Linked DNA regions of Homo sapiens. The protein of the gene in region 4 interacts with the protein of the main gene of each other region in a pairwise test. Each region holds a gene or a part of one and is shown on either strand. Other genes may lie near its edges. The genes, in order: MFGE8, SRXN1, DOCK3, RSPH1, NETO1, SOX10 and DCTN6.

Region 1 (2,598 bases), on a different chromosome or scaffold from region 4:
CTGTCACATGGTGGCTTCTTAGACACTGAGTCAGAGAATATGTATGCTGTGCTCAAGGGAGAGGTCCCAAGATGCCTGGGTCATGTCTCCCTCTTCCGCCTCCGCCCTGCTGTCTGTCCATAGGCTGAGCCTTGTCAATCCTGTGGCAGCCCATGGAATGGCTCTCCCCTTGTGTACACACATACACACACATTCACACACACACATTCACACACACACATTCACACACACACACACATTCTCACACACACATATTCACACACATTCACACATACACATTCACATACACATTCACATACACATTCACACACATTCACAAATACACATTCACACATACACATTCACACACACACATTCACACACACATTCTCACACACACATTCACACACATTCTCACACATTCACACACACATTCACACATTCACACACACACATTCACACATACACATTCACACACACATTCACACGCACGCATTCACACGCACGCATTCACACACACTCACATTCACACACATTCACACACTCACACACACACATTCACACACACACACACATACACACACACACCCTTTCTCCACCTTGGTGGAAGCAGGATCAAGAGAAGGGAGTACAGGTGGGAAGAAGAAAGAAAAGCCGAAGAAAAACAAGGCTTTTCCAGAACTCTTTTGGGGAGCAGAAGAGAAGCCTGGGCTGGAGAGAGGTCAAAGATCTGGCAGTCCCACCTCATCCCACCCAACCCCAGCCCCATATCCCAAGAAGGCTGACCCACCTGCAGCCACTGATCGTTACCGTAGCTCCCCGCAACCCAGGCGTTGAAGTTGCCCTGCTTGTCCAGCCGTGCATAGGAGGGGTTCCAGCTGAAGAGATGCAAGCCCCAGGTCTTGTAGCTGCTGGAGGCCGTGATCTGCTTGTCAGGGATGCTGTTATTCTTCAGGCCCAGGGGATTGGCGCATCCTGCCAGCAAGGTGGGCTGTCATCTGGATCTGGGATCCACAGCTCCCAGGGGCAGGAGCACAAGGCGATGAAGCAGAAAGAACTCTGTGGATCCTGACCAGCCCCTGTCATGCTCTTGGGCAACAGAAAGCAGCTCCATCCGCCTTGCAGGGCCAACTGTGCGACCTTCTCACTGCCGACCCCACCACCTCCTCACCTCAACCAGCCGGGCTCAGCTCCTCACAGATCACCCAAGACCTCCCACTCACCACCCTTCTCCTCTGCACCAGGGAAGGCCCCTGCTCCACCACCTCCTGCCCTCCTTCAATGCCTGACTTTGGAGACACCTCCTCCAAGAAGTCTGCCCTGACTACTTCACTTGGGCAGGATTTCTTCCTCTTCTGGACTCACAGCACTGCCCCCATCGCCTCGGCCTCCCATCCGTCCCATGGCACAGTCACTATCTACTTTAATAACAACCACATTGTTTATTCAGTGCTTACTTCAGTCATTTAACCTGCCACCAAAAAAAAAAAGAAAAAAAAACACTAAATGAAGTAGAAATTAGTAAGCCCATTCTATAGATGAGAAAACTGAAAGACATTAAGCATCATGCTCAAGTCACATACAAACTCCTAATGTCACACTATGACGTCACCTCTACCAGCTACACATCCCAGCTAGATGATGAAGGCCTGCCTAGTGACGACCCAGTGATGAACAGGACAACATCCCTGCCCTCCAGCAGCTGGCAGTTAGAGAAATCAGACAACTCCTGGGGCACAGGAACATCTCTATTTCCATTCCCCAGAAGCCCCCTGACTTAGTGTCTCCCAGAGGGCCTTCGCACACTCAAATGTTCTGGGGATGCTGTCACACAGGCCTGTGAGGGCTGGCCCGGGAAGCTGGCCTTTGTTTCACTCAGCCCTGCCCCAAACACTCAGGAATGTGCCGGGCTGCCTTGCACTTGTATCTGCACCTGCATATGGATAGAACAGTTGGGGATGGGCAAGAGATACAACTCCCAAGAGAATGATGGGGGTGTCTCCCACCTGGAAGAATCCTCACTCCACAAGTGTCTATCCCTCTGGGGAATTGAGGGAGGCAGGAGTGGACGGTGGGACTGGAGAGCCCCCTGCCCTCTGGGAGCCAGCTAAGTTATATCACTGCCCTCCAATACTCTCACCACTCAAGAGTACTGGGAGCCAGCTAAGTTATATCACTGCCCACCTGTACTCTCACCACTCAAGACATTTGCCTCCAGGGTGTGTTGACAATGCCTGCTGATGGTACCATCATCTCCTGATGGTGATGCACCAGGGAACCACCACCTTCCCCCTCAAAGAGAGGCTCCCGGGCTGAGAGCTGGTTGTCCCTTGGCCCCAGAAGAGGAGAGGCCTGAGGCAGGCTAAAACCTGGGCAGCTTTGCAGAGGACACCAATTCTGCACAATGTGCTCAACGCAGACCCCTCTACAGATCATCTGCTTCTAGTGGTTCATACCCTCCTCACTCTCAGCCTCCCCAGGAAGTCAGACAGCCTTTCTGGTAAAATGCAGTTGGAAGGGGCACCAGGGCAGGGACAGGACTGTCAGCTCCAGCACTCTAGGAAGTCCCTTCCTCTCTCTGGCTCTCAGTCTCCCCATCTATAAAATGAGATACTAGGG
Region 2 (4,015 bases), on a different chromosome or scaffold from region 4:
GAAAAGGGAGAATCTAAGTTGACTTCCTGTTAGGGGCCCACACAGCCAGGTGGAGAGTAGGTCATCCTCTAAACAGGGAAAGTCTGGGGCAGGACGGGTGCAGGGTAGAGCACTCTGGGGAGACCCCATTAAGTGTGAGCGGCGTGGAAGGCCTCCTGCTGCTGGTCCACGGGTTCTCTCTCATGATTCCACAAATGATTATTCAGCAGTAAGGTGCAGCAGTCACAAGCCTGAGCTCTGGAACCTGGCACACCTGACTTTGGATCTCAGCTCCTCTCCACAGCAGCTGGGGCACACAGCCCTCTGAACACCATTCCTCACCTGTAAACTGGGAATAAAACATCCTAGAGGGCTGCTGATGAAGAGTCAGTGAGCTGATGCCTACCGGGCATTAGTGGAGCACTAAGGAGGGCAGCCGTGCCAGGCAGGCCTTGTGCCGGGTACTGGAGGCACGATGGTGGATGGCCAGAATGATGGCTCCCAAAGATGTCCACGCCCGAATGCTTCTGAATGTGTTACCTTACATGGGAGAAGGGACTTGGCAGACAGAATTAAGGTAAGGATCCTGAGATGCGGAAATTATCCAAGGTTATCTAGATGGGTCGAATGCCATTATCAGGGTCCTTAAAACTGGAAGAGGAAGTAGAGGAAGAGGTCAGAGTGATGCGATGTGAGAAGGCCTTGGCCTGATGTTGCTGGCTTTGAAGACAGAGGAAGAGGCCATAAGCCAAGCAGTGTGGGTGGCGTCTGGAAGCTGGGAAAGGCGAGGAAATGGATTCTCCCCTAGAGCCTACAGAAAGTAGTGCAGCCCTGCTTGGTGTTAGCCCAGTAAGACCCATTTTGGACTTCTGACCATAAATAAACCTGTGTTGTTTTAAGCCATCAACTTTGTGGTAACTTACAGTGGCCCCAGAAAACTAATACAGGTGTATGTAAGCAAAGGCAGAGCTGGTTCTGGCCCTCAGAGCCTACGGTTCTAGCACGGAAGGCAGGTGTCTAGACAGGACGTTAAAAGCCAGTGGGCTGTAATCCCAGCACTTTGGGAGGCCGAGGTGGGCAGATCGCTTGAGGTCTGGAGTTTCAGACCAGCCTGGCCAACAGGGTGAAACCCCATCTCTACTAAAAATACAAAAATTAGCCAGGCGTGGTGGTGGGCGCCTGTAATCCCAGCTACTTGGGAGGCTGAGGCAGGAGAATGGCTTGAACCCGGGAGGCGGAGGTTGCAGTGAGCCAAGATCGTGCCACTGCACTCCAGCCAGGGTGACAGACCCAGACAACGTCTTAAAAAAAAAAAAAAAAAGCCAGTGAGATCAGAGCTATGCAGGTGGGCACACAGGTGGCTGCAGGCCCACAGAAGCTCCTAACCCGGTAGGGATGGTCAGGGAAGATCCTGACACTGAGACAGGAAGACCGAGAAAGAGTGAGAAACGACAAGGCAGAGATAGAAGAGGTTCTCAACGGGAGAAAAAGCCCAGTGGTGGGACAGGGCATGCATGGCAGATCCCTTCCCATCTCAGCCAGGCGCCGTGCTACTATTGTGGCAACAGATAAGATGGGACGAGGTCCTCGCCCTTGTGGAGTGCACGTGAGGTCAGGAAGACAGAAAATAAAATGCAACACAAATAGATGTATAATATAATTTCTGGTGGACATAAGTGGTATCCTGAAAAACATCTCGGGCTAAGGGGAGAGCTAGAGAGGCCAGTGACTCTGACCAAGGGTGATCAAGGAGGCAGAGAGCTGAACCAGGCAGGGGAGCAGGCCCTGTGGTTGTCTGGGGAAGTGGCTCCAGGCAGTGAGGACACTAGTGTAAATACTAGGACTGAAAGTTATCGGGGGTGGCTGTAGAGGTGCTGGGTGGGGCTTAGGGATCTCATGTGCTCACCTTCCAAGGGTCGGGGGAAGGGGACACAACGTTATGTAGGCCTAACCTGACACCTGTTCTTGCGGGGCCCCCAAGTTCCTGCCAGAATCACTCCGGTATTCTTAACACCCTTCCTCAGTGGTGGAGCTGACCCTTGACCTCTCCCACTTCCCATTCAGACAAGGGCCTCCCAGCAGATATGACACACCTAGTCCCACTGTCACTGACTGTCACAGCCATGAGAGCCCACGGCTTATCTCCGGGTAGTGCGGTGGCCATGTGCTGGGCAGTGGGGCCCAGGCTGCCTGGGTGTGAATTCCAGCCGTGTCACTTTTTAAGCGCCTGATCTTAGTCAAGCCGCTGAAATCTTCCCTGCCTCAGTTCTCGTCTGCAAAAGAGCCACTATCTACCTCCTAGGGTTGGCATAGGAAACTGAGGGACTTCCTGCAGTTCCTGGACCACTGCAAGCACTAGCGTTATAAGCGTTATCATCACTACTTTAATTATCTCGCCCAATTCCCTCCTTGCTCAAGTGAGGAAACAGAGGCCCAGAGAGGCCCAGCTACTTGCTCAAGGTCACACAGCAGAGGCTGAGCTCCGGCTGGGCCCGGAACCAGTCCGTCTCGCGTCCATCGCAGCGACCTCCCTCCTCCGGCAACCTCCCTCCTCCGAAGCCCTCCCTCCGGTTGGCTGGACTCCCCGAGGCCTCACCCGGATCGTGTCCACGAGGCTCTGCACCTTGGCGGGGTCCAACACGGACGGCAGCGGCCGGATGAGCACGCTCAGCGGCACGTTGTGCACCGCGGCGATGCGGCCCGAGTGGATGCTGCCGCCCTGCGCGCCGCCGCTCGGCCCGGGCCCCTCGGGCGCCCCCCGACCCGCGCCGGCCCTGCCCAGCGTTCCTCCTGCACGCAGCCCCATCGTCGCCGCCGCCGCGGGACTCGCCGCCTCCCCCCGGCCTTAACTCCGGCCGGGCCATACCATTCCGCGCGGCCGGGGGGGGGGGCCCGTGCCAGGGCAGCGCGCGTTTCTCCCCCGACCCCGCCGCGGTCCGGCCTCGACCCCGCGGTCCCCAGCCCGACTCCGGCTCCGCTCGCCAGGTGCCGCCAGACTCGCGCGGGGCTCAGGCTCTCCACCGGGGGGCGCCTCTCGCCTCCCCTGCGCCGCGCGGCGTCCGGGGAGTGGAAACGCCCGGGCGGGCTGACTCAGGGTGAGTTTGCAGGTCGCGGGGCGGGAGGGGCGCGGGTGACGCACCGGCCGGGCCGACTTAGGCCGCGGGGGCGGGGGCGGGGGAGAGCGCGGCGGACCTGCCCAGCCAGGGTGAGTCGGCAAAGCCCGCGGTGCGCTGCTGCCCCGCTGCTGGGGTTCCTAGCCAGCGAGGTTATGATCCCCACCAGCGGTTCCACTTCCAGTCTGGCGCCGGCTGTGTCTGGAGTCGTTCCGAACATTTTGCACGTGTATTAACGTATCTGAACCTCAAAACAACCCTGCAAGGAAGGTATGACTGTTATTCCCATTTTACAGAAGAGGAGACTGAGACACAGGTTTAAGTGATGTACCCAAGATCACGGAACTAGTAAGTGGCCGAATCCGCGTTCAAATCCAGACGGTCTGGCTCCAGAGTCCGCCTTCTACCCCACCGTTGGCTGCCTTGGTTCAGCAACAGTGACTGTCACACGGAGCCCTCAGGAGTCGCGCTGACAATGGGTGGGCCCTGCCTTCAAGTTCCACACTGTCTGTTTGTGTCATTACAACACTACTGGAAGTAGGTGCAGTTATAGACCCGCTGTTCAAGGTCAGCTGAAATGAAAGTCAGGTCACACGAGTCCAAACTGTGGGGCCACTTAACCACCAACTCCAAGCAGGAAGGTGGACGATCCCAGACTCGGTCGAAGACAAGCATGTCTGGTTTGCTTGTCTTCCTTCTCAACCTGAATGGCACGAACATGGAGAAATGCATACTTACCCTGCCAGCTGGAGAAAACTGGAGACGAAGGAGGGAGCCAGGAGTTTCTACTTTGCCTTCCACCAGTTGCTGACACTTTCTGAACCCCGTCTGTAAAATGAAGTCATGCTGCCCATCACTCAAAGTTGTGTGAATTGAGAGAGTGCTCATAGTGCTCTGTGAATTGCATAACATCCATTTTGCTG
Region 3 (3,500 bases), on a different chromosome or scaffold from region 4:
TTTCTGGGATGACTCTGTGTGCTGTGTGCCCCTAGGTGGAGGTGAGCCCTCTGGAGAATGCCATCCAAGTGGTTGAGAATAAGAACCAGGAGCTACGCTCCCTGATCAGCCAGTATCAACACAAGCAGGTGCATGGCAACATTAACCTGCTAAGCATGTGCCTGAATGGTGTCATTGATGCAGCTGTCAATGGAGGCATTGCACGCTATCAGGAGGTAAGCTGTGGCCACAGGCCAAACCCATGCAGCCAGCCTGGCCAGGAAGGCGGCTCACAGGCTTCTCTTTTCAAGATTATAGTCTCCTTAGGTAGCCTTCCCTACATGCCCTCTCTTGACATGGTCCTGGAATGAGGCCCTAAGCTCCCTATCACTCCCTATTTCTTTGGCACAGTTTGGTAGGGCCTTTTCTTCATTTTTATTCTCTGAACTCTAAGATGGGTAATCTGTAATCCTGATTATGGGAGGATGTTAAGTGCCCTCCAAGAGGAGCCTTGGAGCCCAGCCCGTCAGGAGAAGTGAGTTGTAGGCTGGATAAGAGGCTAGCCCCTACTCCCAGTCCACCAGTCCTGCCTGCCCTACCTAGGCCATCCAGGCTCCATGAGGGACTGGGGTCAGCATCCAGACTTAGATGGCTTGGCCACGTTCAGTCCTTCTCAGACAAAAAAACACACCTCTAATTGCCAGAAGTTCAAACAGGCCAGACTGGTGTATGTACCTATGAGGAGACAGCCTGGCTGCTTTTTAGGTGGCATTAGTGGACTCAAGTCTCCTGGGCCCCACTTAAGTAGTAGTCCTGGGAAGAGTCTTCCTGACTTGGCCTTTCCTTTCACAGGCCTTCTTTGATAAAGATTACATCAACAAGCACCCAGGAGATGCTGAGAAGATCACCCAGCTCAAGGAGCTTATGCAGGAGCAGGTATGTCTTGGAGGGCTTGGGAACCAGCAGCCAGGTGAGAAAAGCCATGCACTACAAGATGAGCAGTTCTCAGGGGCTACTCATGGTTCACAGAGTGGCCTTGTTTGTGACTCTGATAGGTTCATGTCCTTGGAGTTGGGCTAGCAGTTCATGAGAAGTTTGTGCACCCAGAAATGCGGCCTCTGCATAAGAAGCTAATTGATCAGTTCCAGATGATGCGGGCCAGTCTCTACCATGTAAGTTGATCCCTGTCCTGCCCCTGCTGCAGTAGAACCAGGTGTCACTTCCTCCAGACCTACGCCACAAACCAAAGGAAAATAGGAGAGAGGGAGCCTGGGCAGGGGCCGGGGTTGGGGAGAGAGGCTGTCCTCCCTACAGAGGGACAGGGGGCAAGGATGGATGCTATATCCAGGGGAAGGATGCTGAGGATCCTCCCACTCACTCACTCCCAAAGGAGGAGCCAGATTCAAGGGCAGGGAACGTTTTTCAGGGCACTGTGCTAGTAGACAGGTTTTCATATGTGAAGGAAGAGAGCTAACATATATGGCCCACATGTAGGGATCTTTTTGGAGATGTTTTTCATCCCAAGAACCTAAAGAGATAGGCATGGCCTGAGCCAGCCTTCTCTCCCCATCTCCCTCCTCCTCCTCTCTCCCTGTCCTTCTTCATTCTTTCTCCTCCCTCTAATCGTTCTCTTTTCCCTCTTTTTACTCTTCCTCCCAACTCCCTTTTCTCCCTCTGTCTCTCCCTCCCTCTTATTCCCAGCTTCCTCTATCATGTCTCGTGATCCAAGCTCACATCTGAGATAGCCTAGGATGAGCAGTACTTTCATGCTAGCAGTCCTTAAAGGAGTCAAGCAGGTCCTGGGGCTGGACCAGGCTCCTGAAAGTCTCCCTAACTCTGGCCCAGCTCTTCAGCCTCCACAGTAGGGTTTGGCCCAAGGACTTAAACACACAAACAGGACTTATATTCCAGGACCAGTATTCCTTGGCAGGGTCTTAGAGGAAATGCTGACTGGCTGAGGATAGAGCCCCCTATTCACATATCCAAACCTCATTTTCAACTGTGGGGCTGACTCCAAATGTTTTCTAAAGATCCCTTCCTGCTAAACAGGCTGGCTCCCAGATCTTAAGGGATATGAGCCCAATTACCTGCTGCTACCTGGCACCCAAGCCAAGTTCTCTTCTCATCACCCAGGACCACTGGACAGAAGTGGCAGGGAGACAAGAAGTAGAGCTGTTCAATGCTGCACGAGGTTGTCATGAGCAAAAAATTCCCCCTCTAGGGATAACCATGGCCACAGGAGCCCTGAGGGAGGTTGCACTACTTAAACTCAGTGGGCCTGACCCATTTGGGGCGGACCTGCTGTGTTCTTGGATGCTGCAGGTTCTGGTCATCTCCGTCCCTCCAGGCTCCCAGTGCAGGTCTCAGCCTGTGTGGACAAGTGTGGACAGCATGAAAAGAGAAAAAGAAGCTTGTTGTAGTTTGAGAGGTAGGGGCACATTTTCCAGAGGAAAGCCTGGAGATCCTGAAATTTCTCCCTCTGTTAGGATTCTCCCATGGTATTTCAAGGTGAAATATGCAGAGAAGCTCTTTTACATCTCCGCCTTAAAATTGGAGTGTCCATTTAGTTAAGAACTTGGGCAGTATCGCTGAGTCTGGTGGGTATTCATTCCACTACCTCTCATTCCAGGGTCTCCTGCCTGTTTGACTGGTCTCTGCTGTGTGCAAACTTCCCCATCACAGCAGGTGACCCAAGCAGGCTGGAGCCTGGCCAGTGAGGAGGTTCTCTGCCATGTGGGTTGCAGCAAAAAGCACAAAACACTTTCCTATATACATCACGTTCTTCCGTGTGCACACATAGCCTTTCTCCAGCTACAGAAATACATTTTAGCCCTCTGTATGCTTTGGAAGAAGCAGGTGGAAAACCCGGTGCTTCTTCACACCAAGCTCAGAAATATCCCCAGTGGACTTAGGGCCCCTGTTCACTACAGCTTTTGAAGGACGTGAGGAAACCTTAACAGTTGTTTCCTCTGAGTTGTACACAGGGACACAAACAAACATGCTGTCACCCAGTAGGGTTTGAGATCAGAAGTGTCTGCCCAGAAATCTACATACTTAATATGAATTAATTAAGCTAAAATAGAGCTGTGCTATTTTTCAGTTACATACATCAGGATTTTATGTTCTGTCTCCCCGTAGACTGTGTCACAGACAACCCAGGTCACTAAGAGCTGGGCCATTTAGCAGTCTAATAAAACCCAACACCAATCCTTATGTAATTGGTGCCCACCTATTGACAACTAATAATAAGCTCTTCCTCTCCTTCTTCCCAGATCTTGTTCTACTTATTCCGTAGCGAGAAAACCTGTTAACACACTCCTATGAGCTCAGACCAGCTTCAGTTTATTCCAGATGTGCTTCTCTTAATGTGGAGTCAACCTGGGGCCTCGCACACGGCCTTTGGTCTAGGTTCCAGTGCAGTTAGGAGGGTGTTTTAGTCGTGAAGAGGGCATTGCCCAAAGGAAGTCAGCAGTTCAGGTTCAGCCAACCATATGATTCTTTTTTGTTTCTTTTACATTTTT
Region 4 (3,500 bases):
TGTAAAACCATATTTCAGCGATTACACATACCAAATGCTGTGGCAAGTGCACGGAACCCTGCCCAGGGTCTGACACCGAGTGTTTCCCCATAAGTGTGGGCTCCTTCTCTCCTGTGTTTGGCTGACCCAGCAGTTTAGGGAGCCAACTTGGCAAGACCATGGGCCAGCATGGCAAACCAGTGACCAACCAGCATTTGAGGGGGGAGGAGCATCTTGGAGAGCTTCTCATTTTAAATTGTCTTCAATCCCAAGTGCCAGACAAACTGCTCTACCCAAGGAGCACCTGCTCCACACCAGCCAACTGACCCACAACCAGCCAATCAAACAGCCAACCAATCAACCAACCAGCCAACTGACTAGCCAACCAAGCAACCAATCAACCAACCAATTAACCAACCAACTGTCTAACCAACCAACCAATTAGCCAACCAGCCAACCAACCAACCAACCAACCAACCAGCCAACCAGCCAACCAAACAGCTAACCAATCAACAAACCAGTCAACTGACTAGCCAACCAACCAAACAACCAACGAACCAGCCAACCAAACAGCCAACCAATCAACCAACCAGCCAACTGACTAGCCAACCACCCAGCCAACCAGTTAACCAACCAACCAGCCAGCCAACCAACCAACCAACCAATCGGTTAGCCAACTAACCAACCAGCCAACCAGCCAACCAACCAACCAACCAGTTAACCAACAAATCAACCAACCAACCAACCAACCAACCAACTGGGAGTTACTCCTGAGAAGAAATATAGTTGGAAAAAACCTCAGTTGACAAGTTCAAGAATGATCAGAAAGTATAGGATTGGGGTAGAAAGACTTTAAAAAAAAAATTAAGTGCAAATTTAAAGCCACAATAATAAAGTTTACAAATGTCACTCACCTCAAAAAAGGAAACTTGACTTATAGCTGTTAGAGATGTGCCTCAGCAGGTGACTTTTCTCTGAATTACCTTCTCTATTTGTGCAGGGTCCCTGTGGTGGCATTACAAAATGCTGGGCCGAGCCTCTTAACAGGTTTTTTAAGTAGATTGGGACTTTAAAAAATTTTGCTCACCGTCCTCTTGGTGCAAAATTTAGTGTCTTTTGCAACTTAACTGTTCTCTTTTATTTTTGAAATTTTTCTGCAAAATATGTAATATATTTTTCTCACCATGACACCCTGGAGATCCTCTGACATGGCCAAGAGAGGAGGGATGTAATAATTTTGTCATGAAGTTTTGTTGGGAAGAAACCAAATGATGTACCTGTTTCAGCTGAGGTCTCTATGCCCCAGGGCTGTGCTGGAACCCCCTCATAGTAGCTCACAAAAACCCATTCTGTGCATCTCTTCCCAGCTCCATGTGTAGCTTGAAATTGGCCGCGGTGTGAGTATTTACACCACAGAACCTGGCAAATGTTACAAATCCAGGCACATCACTGCCCCTTAAGACCCAGACAAATCCCTCTAGGTATTTGCACATCCTCATGGTTAATTTAGGTTCAGGGACCTGAAGTATTTTTTACTGAATTATCTCAATTTGGGGATCTTCATCTCTCTTGTTCACATTGTTCCTGTCACACATCACATCATGGGACCTAGTCCTCTTCCTTAATTGTTAGCAGTTGCCACCTTCCCTCTCTCCATGAATTTTTGGTAAGCCTGCTCTTTTCTGAATGACTTACCCACTTTTTGAAATTGTGCCATGCAGCTTTTCGTGCTGCCTTCCCTGTCCTCAGCTGCTGCTCAGGTGCCAACCTTCCATCCTCAGGCTGGTGCTCGCGCCCTGGGGACATGCACTGTCCTTTGTACAGCTCTTCGTTCATCTCACAAAGTGCCCAGGACATTGTAGGTGCTGAGTAAATAATGGGATGATTGAGGAAATAAATATGTAGAAGTTCCTTCTGCAGATAAATTTTGGGGTTATTCACATAAACAAATATTACTTGAATAATTAGCATTTTCTTAGCCTATTGGGTATTCTTTATCTTCATGTGGAAGTGGGTCCAGTTTTTGTGTAAGCCAGAAGCTTATGTAAGTTTTGAGAACCTCTTTAAAAAAAAGAAAATATAAAGTTGGTATAAAAGTGAATTTTCATTTGCAATGATAAATCAAAATAAGTTAAAAATTTAAAAATACCACAAACATCACAGAATCTAAGTAGCCTGAGTTTTAATGTCTGACATACTTCTAGAATAGCTTTTCTCTACCTTTGTTAGCTAATACTCTTTGAATGCTTCTCCATATGGCAACCATTTTGTAATGTTTTCTATAGAGAGAATAGAAATATAATTCCTTCTTTTCTCTTTGATCAACAAATTGATCAACATTTGCTTTTTATTATTCATAGTCTCAAAACATATCATTTAGCTTAATGACTTGGTGTAATATGCACGTTTTTAAGAGCAGTCACCTTTGGGAGACCTCTATTAAGTTTCTTTCCTAAGTGAGCTGTAAGATTTGAGGACGTTTTGAGTTTTCTAGTGCAGGGATTCATACTGTGGTTGACAAAAGTAGTTTGCAGTTGTCCACATCATGGAGTGGTATTATGAATTTTATGATATCCTTGCCAATTTCAGTACTGCCTACCAAGCCTATAAGGACTTAGCAGAAGCCGTATGGAGGTGAGGAGGTGAGGGAAGAGTTCAAACAGAGGCATGGCACCAGCGGATGGAGCTGGTGTGCAGCTGGGGTTAGAGTGGCATGTTGGAGTCAGATGATTGGGTGGGAGATAGACTGAAATGCTGCCAGGTGGCTGAGGATAGATGGTCAAGCCCTGGAGTTGTTGCTGGATCTCTAAACATTTGCAAGGTAAATGAAGTGTGGTGTTAGGATCACTGGCAATGGGTCAGACAACCTTGGTTTGTCTCCCTCCTCGTTGCATCTTCGTGGTGCCTCTGACTAACCTGTGAAATGTGCTTGTCAGTACATGCAGGTGGCTGTGGCCCACATCCATACACCTCACTCTGTACCCCGTGAACTCCTGACTCAGCCCTCTCTTAGCCCACTGTCCACCGTGGCTCAGCACCTATGCCATCTGGCACAAAAGGAAGGGGTGGAGGGATGTCAGAGTGGAAACAGATAGCAGCCTTGGTCGGTGCTGTTAAAAATCTCTCTTCTGCAGGATTTCCTGAGCAGAAGGGGCCTGTGTGTGCATGGGCTTCATTTGCTTCACAACACATCTGCCTTTGCCATGGTTAACAATTTGAAGACATGGTACAGGGCATCGATCCCTTCTTCTCACCTGGGCTTGCCTTTGTGTTGTTCCTTTCAGGAGAGTGGGCAAATGACCTGCGGCACGGCCATGGCGTATACTACTACATCAATAATGACACCTACACTGGAGAGTGGTTTGCTCATCAAAGGTTCGGTTTCTATCTTGGGTCTTAACGGGATTTGCTTATGTAATGAGAACATGATGTCTGCAGATTGTTTACACTTACTGAGGAACAGAATCATAACAAAAGCCCAGTTACCAACTCTGCCAGGCAGGTCCAATCTTTCTATGGCT
Region 5 (3,500 bases), on a different chromosome or scaffold from region 4:
TAAGTGTAAATGATGAATATACTATACTATCCTATGCAATTCCTAATATAAATATTATGTAATATGTGAAAGAAAAGTATTTTTGTGTTCCTACCAAAAATAAATACATTATATTGAAAAATATGTTATTTTGGGATTAAAATTGTCCATCAAGATGGGTGAGCCATCTTGGTAAGGCAATCGTTTTCAAATATCATTTCATATCTCAAAATATATAAATATTGATGGGAGCAATGGTCACATGGAAGTAAGTTTGCATTATAAATCTGTATTATAAATTAAAAGCCATCATTTTATAAAATAAATATGTGTATATGTTTAGAAATAAATAAAGTATCTTTGGTCTCTGTGTGCATGTGTGTTCACACACATACATATCGTGCACATGTATGAGGTTTAGGAAGAATATGGATAGCAGTGAAAAGGAAAAAGAAGAGGGAAACTATTGGAAAACTAGGGTTTAAATCATTAATTAAAGGGAAACTGAAATATGAAGACAAAATAGAAGACAATACTCTGGAAGTATTTCAGTCTTCAGGTTATAGTTGTCATCAAAAAATCTATTGATACTGACCGCTGGACGGCTTTATCGTGTCTGGACAGCCTGTGACTGGTGGTCGGCACCTCTTCGATTTCATCTATGTCACAGGCATCTGCAGCATCTTGCGAGTAGCTGTGTTTCATGACAAGGATATTTCTTCTGTTCATGGGTGGGATGAGGGGTTTTCCTGGCTGTGTGGGCATCTCTGTCAAGATAGAAGCATCTCTTGTGCTGAGGTTACTGCGGCTGCCTTTAGTGCTGGACAGCTGTGATCCACAGTGATGGTCATGAATGCATTTGGAAGATGACCTCCGCAGTTTATGGTAATTTTCAAAGTCATCTGCCACATCTGCAAAGTCAGCTGTAGCTCCTGTCCCTCTGAGAGTGCATAACTCATAATGAGGAGGTTCAAATACCTCCTGGAAAACTGTCTGGTCAAAGTCTGATTTCCTTTGGACATACTTTTTACGAGGCTGTTTGATCTGTACGATGACAGAGATGATAATGAGGATGATCACGATGCAGGAAGTCACGCCAATGACAGTCCCACTGGTGTTGGTCAGCTGGTCCAGCAGGCTGGTTTTCCTCTTCTCTATAGGTTGGAGAGAGTGAAAACAACAAACGGACAAAAGAAGAAGCAACGCAGCAAACATTAATATTATAGTCAAAATGTGTATTAAAAACTTAAAGTAAAGCAGGCTGAGCACAGAATTTTTACAGGCTTATAATAACTTAAGAAAATATTTAAAAATAAATACAAGGTCTCGTTTTTCACCAAAAAAATCCACTGAGCAGCCTTAAAAATAGCCCTCCCTCCCCATTGCCCAGCATCTCAGCTTAAAATACACACACACACACACACACACACACACACACACACACACAATCCTCTATCTATCTAATCTATCGTAGGTTAAGAAAATATTTTAAAATAAATACAAAGTCTCTTTTTTCACAAAAAATACACTGACCAGTCTTAAAAATAGCCCCCCTCCCCATCGTCCAGCATCTCATCTTAAAATACACACACACACACACACACACACACAATCTATCTATAAAGTAACAACAATATTCTGATACCAAAGGATAATTCAATTCAATCTGAAGACACACACTTTTGGAATGATGGCATGGACTCTTTCCCAAATGAAATAATCACAACTGGTAGAAAATTATTTTAAAAACTCAACCAATTAAAGCCTGGTTTAATGAAACTCAGGAAATTGTCCTAATGATGTACATCAAGTGGAAATATATTTATATAAACCAATCTACTAAATGTCCTTAGGACCAGTGAGAGTCTGTGGCATTTGAGCCATGACTTGCTTCCTCCACTCTTGATTCACCACGATGGGAACCCTACTCAGGGAGGTGTGGACAAGAACGCAGGGCACCCTCTCCCTGCAGCTCCCAGTTAAGTGAGTTATGGAATCTCCTTAGAAGGGGAAAGCTACCAGCATTTCTCAATGCCCAACCAGGTCCATGTTGGACATGCTTCTTTTCTGGCCTGAGTGGCTGAGATGTCTGGGGCTCCCGAGGTTCCTCCTCTCAGCCTTCACTTGGAGGGCAGGAGCTCAACACCAGGTGTCTCCAGTGGAGAATGCCAGGCTTGGATCATGCTTACCCAAGTTTGCTGACACAGGAGAGCTGCCTGGAGTGGCAAGTTGACAACACCACATGTTAGCAACCTCACCCAAGTGCTCTGTGCATAAACAGACCTGTACCACTGTTCCTGCCCCGACCCAGAAGAAGCTGTGCCCAGAAAGAGAGTCAGGCTGAAAGTACAGAAAGCATTATAGCTTCCCCTAAATAAAGTTAGTTTATTTGAAATGGTGTGTGGAGAAACTTAAGCCTAATGATAATTTCAAAAACTATGGAGATTTTGTGGTATGCACAGGCTTCTGGACATTCGAAAGTTCGTCTTATTGCTCTAAAGACACTAACTGCCTCTTAGTGTTTTATGAGGGCCTGGCTGGTACTTGGATAGGAGACCACCTGGGAATACCGAGTGCTGTATGCATTTAAGAGGCAGTGTGCAATTAAGTATGCAATTAAGAGACAGTTAGTGTCTTAAGAGCCATAAGACGAACCTTAGAACATCTAGAAGTTTAACAGAACGAGCTAGGAGAGTAACAGCTAATGAGAGTCCTCCTGGGTTATAACAACTCACAAAGGCTAGACTCAAGGACTACCCTTGCAATTAATTAAATTTAATTGACTAGACTGTAGAAAAATTTATGATCTTGGGCACTGTCAAAAGCAGTAGAGCAATCAGCCGGCAATTGGTGGAGACTAACAACTGGCTGCAATACCAACAGAGGTGATAGCTAAATAGAGAGAACAGGAAATGAGAGAGGCACAGAGAGCCCTGTTAAAACCGTGTTGCCCAAGGCTGATGGTGCGAAGTCCAAGGCGGTGGCCTCTGTGGTGCAGCATCAGAGGCTTCACTAAAATGGTCCAGCCAAGTCTACATTTAGAAACAAACAAGAAAAACTACAAGTCCTGGGAGGAAGGAGTTAGTATTCAGAGATGCTACTAATCTAACATGTGATTTTCAACAAAACATTATAATACATGTAAAGAAACAGTAAAGCGAAGTGTATATATAGGAAAAAAAAAAGCAGGCAATGAAAAGACCCTTTGGGGAGCCGGATATTGGAGTTGGCAAAGATTTCAAAGCAGCTATAATCAATATGTCTAAGGAACTAAAGCAAGCTATGACTGAAGAAGCTAAAGAAAATGAGGACAATGCTCATCAAATAGAGAATATTAATGAAGAAATATAAATCATATAAAAATGTAAAGTCTAGAATTGAACAGTACAATTACTAACATGATAACTTCCTGGAGCCTCAACAGTACATTTCAGCTGGAAGAAGAAAGTATCAGCTAACTTTATAAAGACAGAGGCATGCGAATAGTGCAATATGAAAATGAGTTTCAAAACAAGAAGGCA
Region 6 (3,500 bases), on a different chromosome or scaffold from region 4:
CCGGGTGGTCTTTCTTGTGCTGCATACGGAGCCGCTCAGCCTCCTCGATGAAGGGGCGCTTGTCACTTTCGTTCAGCAGCCTGGGGTGTGGTGGGAGGCGGAGAGGACAGCAGAGGGGCTGGCGTGAATGCCAGAGCACTCCAGGTTGGCCTCCCTCTGAGTGTCCATCTTGGAAGATGTGAGGCCCTGGGATGGGGCACCCAGAGGACAGGACCCGGGGTGGGGGCTGTGCCCTATGATTTGTGGACTGAGAGATGTGAGGCCCAAGGAATAACAGCCTCAGAGGGCTGCCCCCAAATCTTTCATGGGCTGGAGGGTGAGAGAGGGGTCAGCCCGCTGCTCCTGGCAGCCCCTGAGGAGGAGTTAGAAGTAGGAGTAGAGGTTTCAAGGGGCAGATGCCAGTTCAAGGAAAGGAAAAACTTTCTCATCATCAAAGCTGTCTGCAAGTGGAATTGGCTACTTCAGTGGGGGTGAGCTCCCTGGGACTGAGGGTGGGCAATAGAAGCAGCATGGCTGGGGGAGAACTCAGTCTCTGCTACTTACTAGCTGTGTGTGTGACCTTGAGCAAATTACTTCTCTGAGCCTGAGTTTCTTCACCTATAAAAGGATGATAACATTGGCTTAACTTGGGTGTGGGATTGGCCAGAATAATGGATGTGAGATGCCTTGCACCAGGGCCTGGGAAGCGGGCTGAGCACCTTGAGGAAGAGGTGCTTTTCTTTCTTTCTTTTTTTTTTCTGTGAGGGAATCTCACTCTGTCACCCATGCTAGAGCTCAGTGGTATGATCTCAGCTCACTGCAACCTCTGCCTCCCAGGTTCAAGTGATTCTTGTGCCTCAGCCTCCCAAGTAGCTGGGATTACAAGCATGCGCCACCACGCCCGGTTAATTTTTGTATTTTTAGTAGAGATGGGGTTTCACCATGTTGACCAGGCTGGTCTCCAACTCCTGACCTTAGTTGATCCGCCTGCCTTGGCCTTCCAAAGTGCTGGGATTACAGGCATGAGCCATTGTGCCCAGCCCAAGAGGTACTTTTCTATTTTTAATTTTTTATTTATTTAGAGACAGAGTCTCACTCTGTCGCCCAGGCTGGAGTGCCGTGATGCGGTCTCAGCTCACTGCAATCTCGGCTTCCTGAGTTCAAGCGATTCTCCTGCCTCAGCCTCCCGGGTAGCTGGGACTACAGGCACGCACCACCATGCCTGGCTAATTTTTGTATTTTTAGTAGAGACGAGGTTTCACCATATTGGCCAGGCTGGTCTCCAACTCCTGACCTCAGGTGATCCACCCGCCTTGGCCTCCCAAAGTGCTGAGATTATAGGCATGAGCCACCGTGCCCGGCCCCAAGAGGTGCTTTTCTAATGCTGCTTGCGGGGGTGGTTGGACAGGAGGATCTAGGGTTGGACTCTTAACTCTGGGTCCTGATTGTGTGAATTCCAGTGTGGTGGGACTGAGGGGGCAGATGTGGCTCCTCTTTACCATGGGTCTGGGTGGGGGGTACTGCCTCCTGTGGGGGATCCTATATCCTTGTCCAGAAAATAGCAGAGAGTAGAGGAAGCTAGCCTCTCCTCAGACCCTGGAACAGTCCCTGAAACCAACACATGGAGAGAAGAAGCCCTGAAGCCAGCGCCCTTGCCACCGACTCCAGCCTTAGGCCAGGGTTGGAGGGTGGAGGGCATTTAGGGTTTGGCTGCCCCAGGGTGAGGAGGGCAGGATGGGGTACCTTACAGAGGGGGTCGAGGGGAAAGTCCAGATTCTAGAATCCCAGACCTTGGTACTGAGAATCCATGAGTCTTTGTGGGAGCAGCCTTGTCTGTCAGTCCAGAGGGCTTGTCTCTTCAGCTGCCCCACCCCTCACACCCCAGTGAGTGCCCTCTTCCCCCAGTCAGCAGAAGGCCGAGCCCTCCCTCCCCAGGCTGGGCGGGGGTGGTCATGCCAGGCACCTCCTAGCCGGCAGCAGCATTCCTCTGCGGCTTAGCCTCCCTGTCTACTCCCCCCACCCCGGCCCTGAGCCCAGCCCTAGCCCCAGCTTTCTCAGAGGGTCCCTCCAGCCGAGACTCTGTCAGAGTCAGTGTACACACTTAGGACAAAGATGCCGGAGCAGGGCCTTGAGAGTCAGGGAGTGGGATGTGGGCACCCTCTCTGACGGCTGGGACCAGGGGAGGGGGTGGAGCAGGCCTTGAGGGTGTGACTGGGGAGAACCCACAGAGGAGAGAGCTGCTCCGCCAGCAGTGGACCCCAACAGAGGGGCTTCTGGGATGGCTGGGGACATGGGACACAGAGCTCACTCTTTCACCTATCCTTCCCTTGCCCCCTGCCCAGCTGGCAGCCAGCATCAGCAAGAAAGTGACAGGGGCCAGAAGAGAGAGAGGATTCCAACATCGGATTCCGCTGCTACCTCCTAAGCTAGTTCCCAGCATTAGCCTAACCCTGACAGAAATCTAAGCCTGGGGCCACTGCCATCCCCGACCCCAGCTCCCTCCTCCACCAGCTGTGCCGGACAGCTGATTCCACCTCCACCCCAACCCCAAGCCCAGCCTGCCCACCATGTAAACCCAATCTCCAGCACCAGTCCCCACTCAACATTACCAGCCCCAAACCCCCAACTTCGCCTCCAGCTCTAACTCCAAACCCAGTCCTCATCTGCACCTTCCTGTCAGCCCTCTTTCTCCCTGGTCTCCCAGGTTTGGAATGGGGGCAAGAAGAGGTAGGCTGATTCCTCACCCAAACTGGAAACCCCAACCGGGGACCTCCCACAGTGGGGCACTGATTGCTGCTACCTGTGTCCTGCTAGGCCAGGGGCATAAGAAGACTACTTGGGGAAGGGGCCTGTGGCACTGGGAACAGAGGCTGGGTGACCCCCACCACACAGGAGGGACTCTTGCCTGTGTCCGCCTTTCCAGTTTCTTGGCTCTGGTTCTTTCCAGGCAGATCAGCCAACCCACAGGCACCACCCTGTGATCAGCCTCAACTAGCCCCTCCCCAGATGGGCATCAAAGGTTAGAATGACTGTTGGGGCTGACACGGCCCCTTAGGACCTGGGCTCCAGTGTGTCTGATCCCACACTCCCTTGGGGCACTCCACACAGTCTGTGTGTATCTTTCTCTTTTTGGTTTTAAGACACCTGTTTTCCAGCTCTGCCTACCTAACCACCCCACTTCTTGACATCCCAGGAGTCACAGCTTGGGGAGGTTTCAGGAGAAGCCCCTGGAGCAATTGGCCAGCCCAGCCCAAATCCAAATGTCTCTCAGGACCCCCCTCCAGGGTCCAGGGAGCCACCCTCTGTTGGCATTGCCTTTGATCCTTGCCATGGTTCTGGCCCCATCCTCCCATTGGGATTGGGTCCTCAGCAAGTAGTGCCAGTTTTCCTGACTGCCACACCTCAGGCTGGCCCCTGTGCACACAGCTTGAGTGATGGCCAAGAATAAGTCCTCCTGAAGGGAGTCCAAGCCCAGGGTTCTGGGCTGGGGGAACCTGGGGACAGGGACAATGGAGGAGCCA
Region 7 (3,500 bases), on a different chromosome or scaffold from region 4:
TAAGACTAGCTTGGCAAAATAGCGAGACCCTGTCTCAAAAAAAAAAAAAGAAAGAAAAAAAAAACCAAAACGGGGTTGTTGTAACATTGGGGGATTTAAAAAAAAAAGAAAAGAAAAAATGTAAAATGGGGAAGAAGTAGAAATGCCAGGGAAAATCTACATAATTAATTACATCACTTCAGTCTTACTTTCCTTCTAACTGAAGAATGCATTGCAAACTACTATAAGGTATTATTCCTAGAATATCATGATGATAGCCACAATTATAATGCAGTAAAATGATGAGTAAAAAGAACACAGAGGAGCATTTTGATAAATATGTGGTCCCAGTCTGCAGTAGAGATTGTAAAAAATTAAAAAACATAACTTTCCTCATTTTGCTTCATAAACACTTCGCAAGTGGTTTAGGTAATACAAAAGACAAAGAGTTACCACGGCACTGAAAAGAAATAATTAAATCAACCAACCTGGCAAATTCTTTTTTCTTTTTTCTTTTTTTTTTTTTCTGAGAAGGAGTTTCGCTCTTGTTGCCCAGGCTGGAGTGCAACGGCGCGATCTCGGCTCACCGCAACCTCTGCCTCCCAGGTTCAAGCAATTGTCCTGCCTCAGCCTCCCGAGTAGCTGGGATTACAGGCATGCACCACCATGCCCAGCTAATTTTGTATTTTTAGTAGTGACGGGGTTTCTCCATGTTGAGGCTGGTCTTGAACTCCTGACCTCATGTGATCCGCCCGCCTCAGCCTCACAAAGTGCTGGGATTACAGGCGTGAGCCACCGTGCCCGTCCTAACCTGGCAAATTCTTAACAATGTTCCATAATACTGGCACAATCTCCACTGGTTTTATAAGACAAGATGCCTAAATTGTTTGGAGGCTTAGATTTTTTTTTGGAAAAAAAAAATGACGTTACAGGGTTTTTTTTTTTTTCATTAAAGAAACTGTTCATTTAAGGAAATAAAGTGTATTTCCTCTCTGAAAGTGTAATAGTTCACTGAACACTTTAGTCTGGTAGCATACAGGTGACATGCGGCTGCTGGTAAGAATGAGCTCACACCAATAAAACTACAAGGGCACCATATCCAGGTAAACCCCAGTTAAAAGAACAGAGTAAAATGTTTGAGGAACTTAGTCAAGTTCACGTAAGTAAAATGTTGGACTTGAACTCTGGCAAGGCTACACTGAGAAGATCTGACAGCGTTAACAGCAAATATTTATTGACAGCTTACTACTCACAATTTTCATGTTTTCTTTCAAGAAACCTAGGAGGTAGATACTACTATTTTGCATGTTATGAAAATTGCTCATTGCCATCCAATATCTCTTCTCCTCTTTTTCCTTGTAATAGAACCCTGATCTCATTAGCGGCTGCAATGCAACCAGCTAAGACTACAACTCCCAAACTCCCTTGCAGCTTGATGTGTCCATGAGATTGTCTTAGCCATGAGACACACAGAGGAGGGTCGTGTGGAACTTTCAGGAAGGCTGTTTAAAGGGAGCTGACTCACAGCTGGAACACATGCCCTTTTGCTTCCACGCCTCCCCTTTCTCATCCAAGATGATGCTTGGTGCTCTAGCCATCACTTCCTGGCCTGCAGGGCCGGAGCTCCATGCTGGACAATCAACCGATCAGCCCTCCATTACTCACCTTGAAACTTTTTATATGAGAGAATAAACCTCTGCAGGTGTAAGCCACCCCTACATGCAGCCGAACCTGATCCTGATACACACAATTATATAGATGGGAAAAACATCAAGGTTAGAGAGGTTAAGTAATATGTTCAAAGTAACCCAGCAAGAAAGGAGCAAGGAGCAGAGTAGCCCAGGTCTGTTGACTCCATGGCCCACGCTCTCCACGAAGCTCCACAAAGGCAGCACCTTTGTCTGCTGTGCTTACTGACGTGTCTCTAGCACTAGCACAGTGCCTGGCACATCGCAGGTACACAACAGATCTCTCTTAAATACATGAATGACTTTGTTATACAGCCTCATTAGTATTTCAGATAGGAGTTTAAACACAGCCTCCATCACACTACATTCTTTCAGAAATTTAAACACATAGGAGAAAATGCATTATTTTGTCAATAAAACTAGGACATCAGTGAAATAAACATGGAAGACGGTATCTAATTGTAAAGCACTAAAATAGATTAAATCACATCAATTCTTGAAAAACAGTAAATAAACTATTTCTTACCGATAGTTACATCTCCTCTGATTTCACTTTCTACACATACAACTGCTCCAGGAGCAATCTTCACACTGTAGCAAGAAAAAGGTAACATTTACCAGGGGTAAGATTAAACATACTGTTGGAGGAGCTACCGTGACATTGTAATGAAAACAAGGTTTAAAAAATGATGGAAAAAAAGGCCAGGCGCAGTGGCTCACGCCTGTAATCCTAGCACTTTGGGAGGCCGAGGTGGGGGGATCACCTGAGGTCAGGAGTTCGACACCAGCCTTACCAACATGAAGAAACCCCATCTCTACTAAAAATACAAAACTAGCCAGGCGTGGTGGCGAGCACCTGTAATCCCAGCTACTTGGGAGGCTGAGGCAGGAGAATCACTTGAACTCGGGAGACAGAGTTTGCAGTGAGCCGAGATCGCGCCATTGCACTCAAGCATGGGCAACAAGAGTGAAACTCTGTCTCAGGAAAAAAAAAAAAAAAAAGATGGAAAAATGGAAAGTCAATGGTAAGAGGGTAAGGTTTTAATACATTATAAATTTTTCAATTGGTATATTGTCCATCATCCCAAATCACATGTGCTAAAACACTTGAGAAGAGTTTTGAATCTTTTCTTTTAATAGCAGCACGTTTCTAAACAACAAAAAGCTGAAAACAACCTAGATATTCATCAGTGGAAGATTAGTTAATAAATTATGGCACATTATGGACTATTACATGGCCATCAAAAAGAATGAATAATCTCTTGTCAAGATTTTGGAATGGCTGAGCACAGTGGCTCACACCTGTAATCCCAGCACTCTGGGAGGCCAAGGAAGGAGAACTGCTTAAGCCCAGGAATTCAAGACCAGCCTGGGCAACATAGTGAGACCTCATCTTTTTTTTTTGAGACAGAGTTTCACTCTTGTTGCCCAGGCTGGAGTGCAATGGCACCATCTCGGCTCACTGCAACCTCTGCCTCCCAGGTTCAAGCAACTCTCCTGCCTCAGCCTCCCTAGTAGCTGGGATTACAGGCATGTGCCACCACACCTGGCTAATTTTGTATTTTTAGTAGAGACGGGGTTTTTTCAGGTTGGTGAGGCTGGTCTCGAACTCCCGACCTCAGGTGATCCACCCACCTCAGCCTCCCAAAGTGCTGAGATTACAGGCATAAGCCACCGTGCCCGGCGACCTCATCTCTTAAAAAAAAAAATATGGAATGATCTCCAAGCTATATTGTTAAAAGTAAAAAAGAGTGAAGTGAGAAAATGGACAGTATGTAATATGCCATTATTTTTGTAAAGGTAGGAAGAAAAAATATACATTCAAACTATTTA

Evidence for each region.
Region 1: the proteins of RSPH1 (region 4) and MFGE8 interact in a two-hybrid assay, tested with the Homo sapiens proteins (one large-scale study listed by BioGRID and IntAct).
Region 2: the proteins of RSPH1 (region 4) and SRXN1 interact in a two-hybrid assay, tested with the Homo sapiens proteins (one large-scale study listed by BioGRID and IntAct).
Region 3: the proteins of RSPH1 (region 4) and DOCK3 interact in a two-hybrid assay, tested with the Homo sapiens proteins (one large-scale study listed by BioGRID and IntAct).
Region 5: the proteins of RSPH1 (region 4) and NETO1 interact in a two-hybrid assay, tested with the Homo sapiens proteins (one large-scale study listed by BioGRID and IntAct).
Region 6: the proteins of RSPH1 (region 4) and SOX10 interact in a two-hybrid assay, tested with the Homo sapiens proteins (one large-scale study listed by BioGRID and IntAct).
Region 7: the proteins of RSPH1 (region 4) and DCTN6 interact in a two-hybrid assay, tested with the Homo sapiens proteins (one large-scale study listed by BioGRID and IntAct).

The regions. Positions count from the first base shown.
Region 1 is NC_000015.10:88,900,782-88,903,379, forward strand, and holds part of MFGE8 (lactadherin isoform a preproprotein), read right to left. Parts: exon of another isoform or gene 1,402-2,598; intron 955-1,401; coding exon 770-954; intron 1-769.
Region 2 is NC_000020.11:650,401-654,415, forward strand, and holds the start of SRXN1 (sulfiredoxin-1), read right to left. Parts: upstream 2,801-4,015; 5' UTR 2,786-2,800; coding exon 2,576-2,785; exon of another isoform or gene 2,553-2,575; intron 1-2,552. UniProt on the Homo sapiens protein: Contributes to oxidative stress resistance by reducing cysteine-sulfinic acid formed under exposure to oxidants in the peroxiredoxins PRDX1, PRDX2, PRDX3 and PRDX4. Does not act on PRDX5 or PRDX6.
Region 3 is NC_000003.12:51,356,927-51,360,426, forward strand, and holds part of DOCK3 (dedicator of cytokinesis protein 3), read left to right. Parts: intron 1-35; coding exon 36-215; intron 216-831; coding exon 832-915; intron 916-1,034; coding exon 1,035-1,151; intron 1,152-3,500. UniProt on the Homo sapiens protein: Potential guanine nucleotide exchange factor (GEF). GEF proteins activate some small GTPases by exchanging bound GDP for free GTP.
Region 4 is NC_000021.9:42,486,225-42,489,724, reverse strand, and holds part of RSPH1 (radial spoke head 1 homolog), read left to right. Parts: intron 1-3,263; coding exon 3,264-3,354; intron 3,355-3,500.
Region 5 is NC_000018.10:72,749,488-72,752,987, forward strand, and holds part of NETO1 (neuropilin and tolloid-like protein 1 isoform 3 precursor), read right to left. Parts: intron 1,134-3,500; coding exon 575-1,133; intron 1-574.
Region 6 is NC_000022.11:37,978,056-37,981,555, forward strand, and holds part of SOX10 (transcription factor SOX-10), read right to left. Parts: intron 81-3,500; coding exon 1-80. UniProt on the Homo sapiens protein: Transcription factor that plays a central role in developing and mature glia.
Region 7 is NC_000008.11:30,162,869-30,166,368, reverse strand, and holds part of DCTN6 (dynactin subunit 6), read right to left. Parts: intron 2,259-3,500; coding exon 2,194-2,258; intron 1-2,193. UniProt on the Homo sapiens protein: Part of the dynactin complex that activates the molecular motor dynein for ultra-processive transport along microtubules.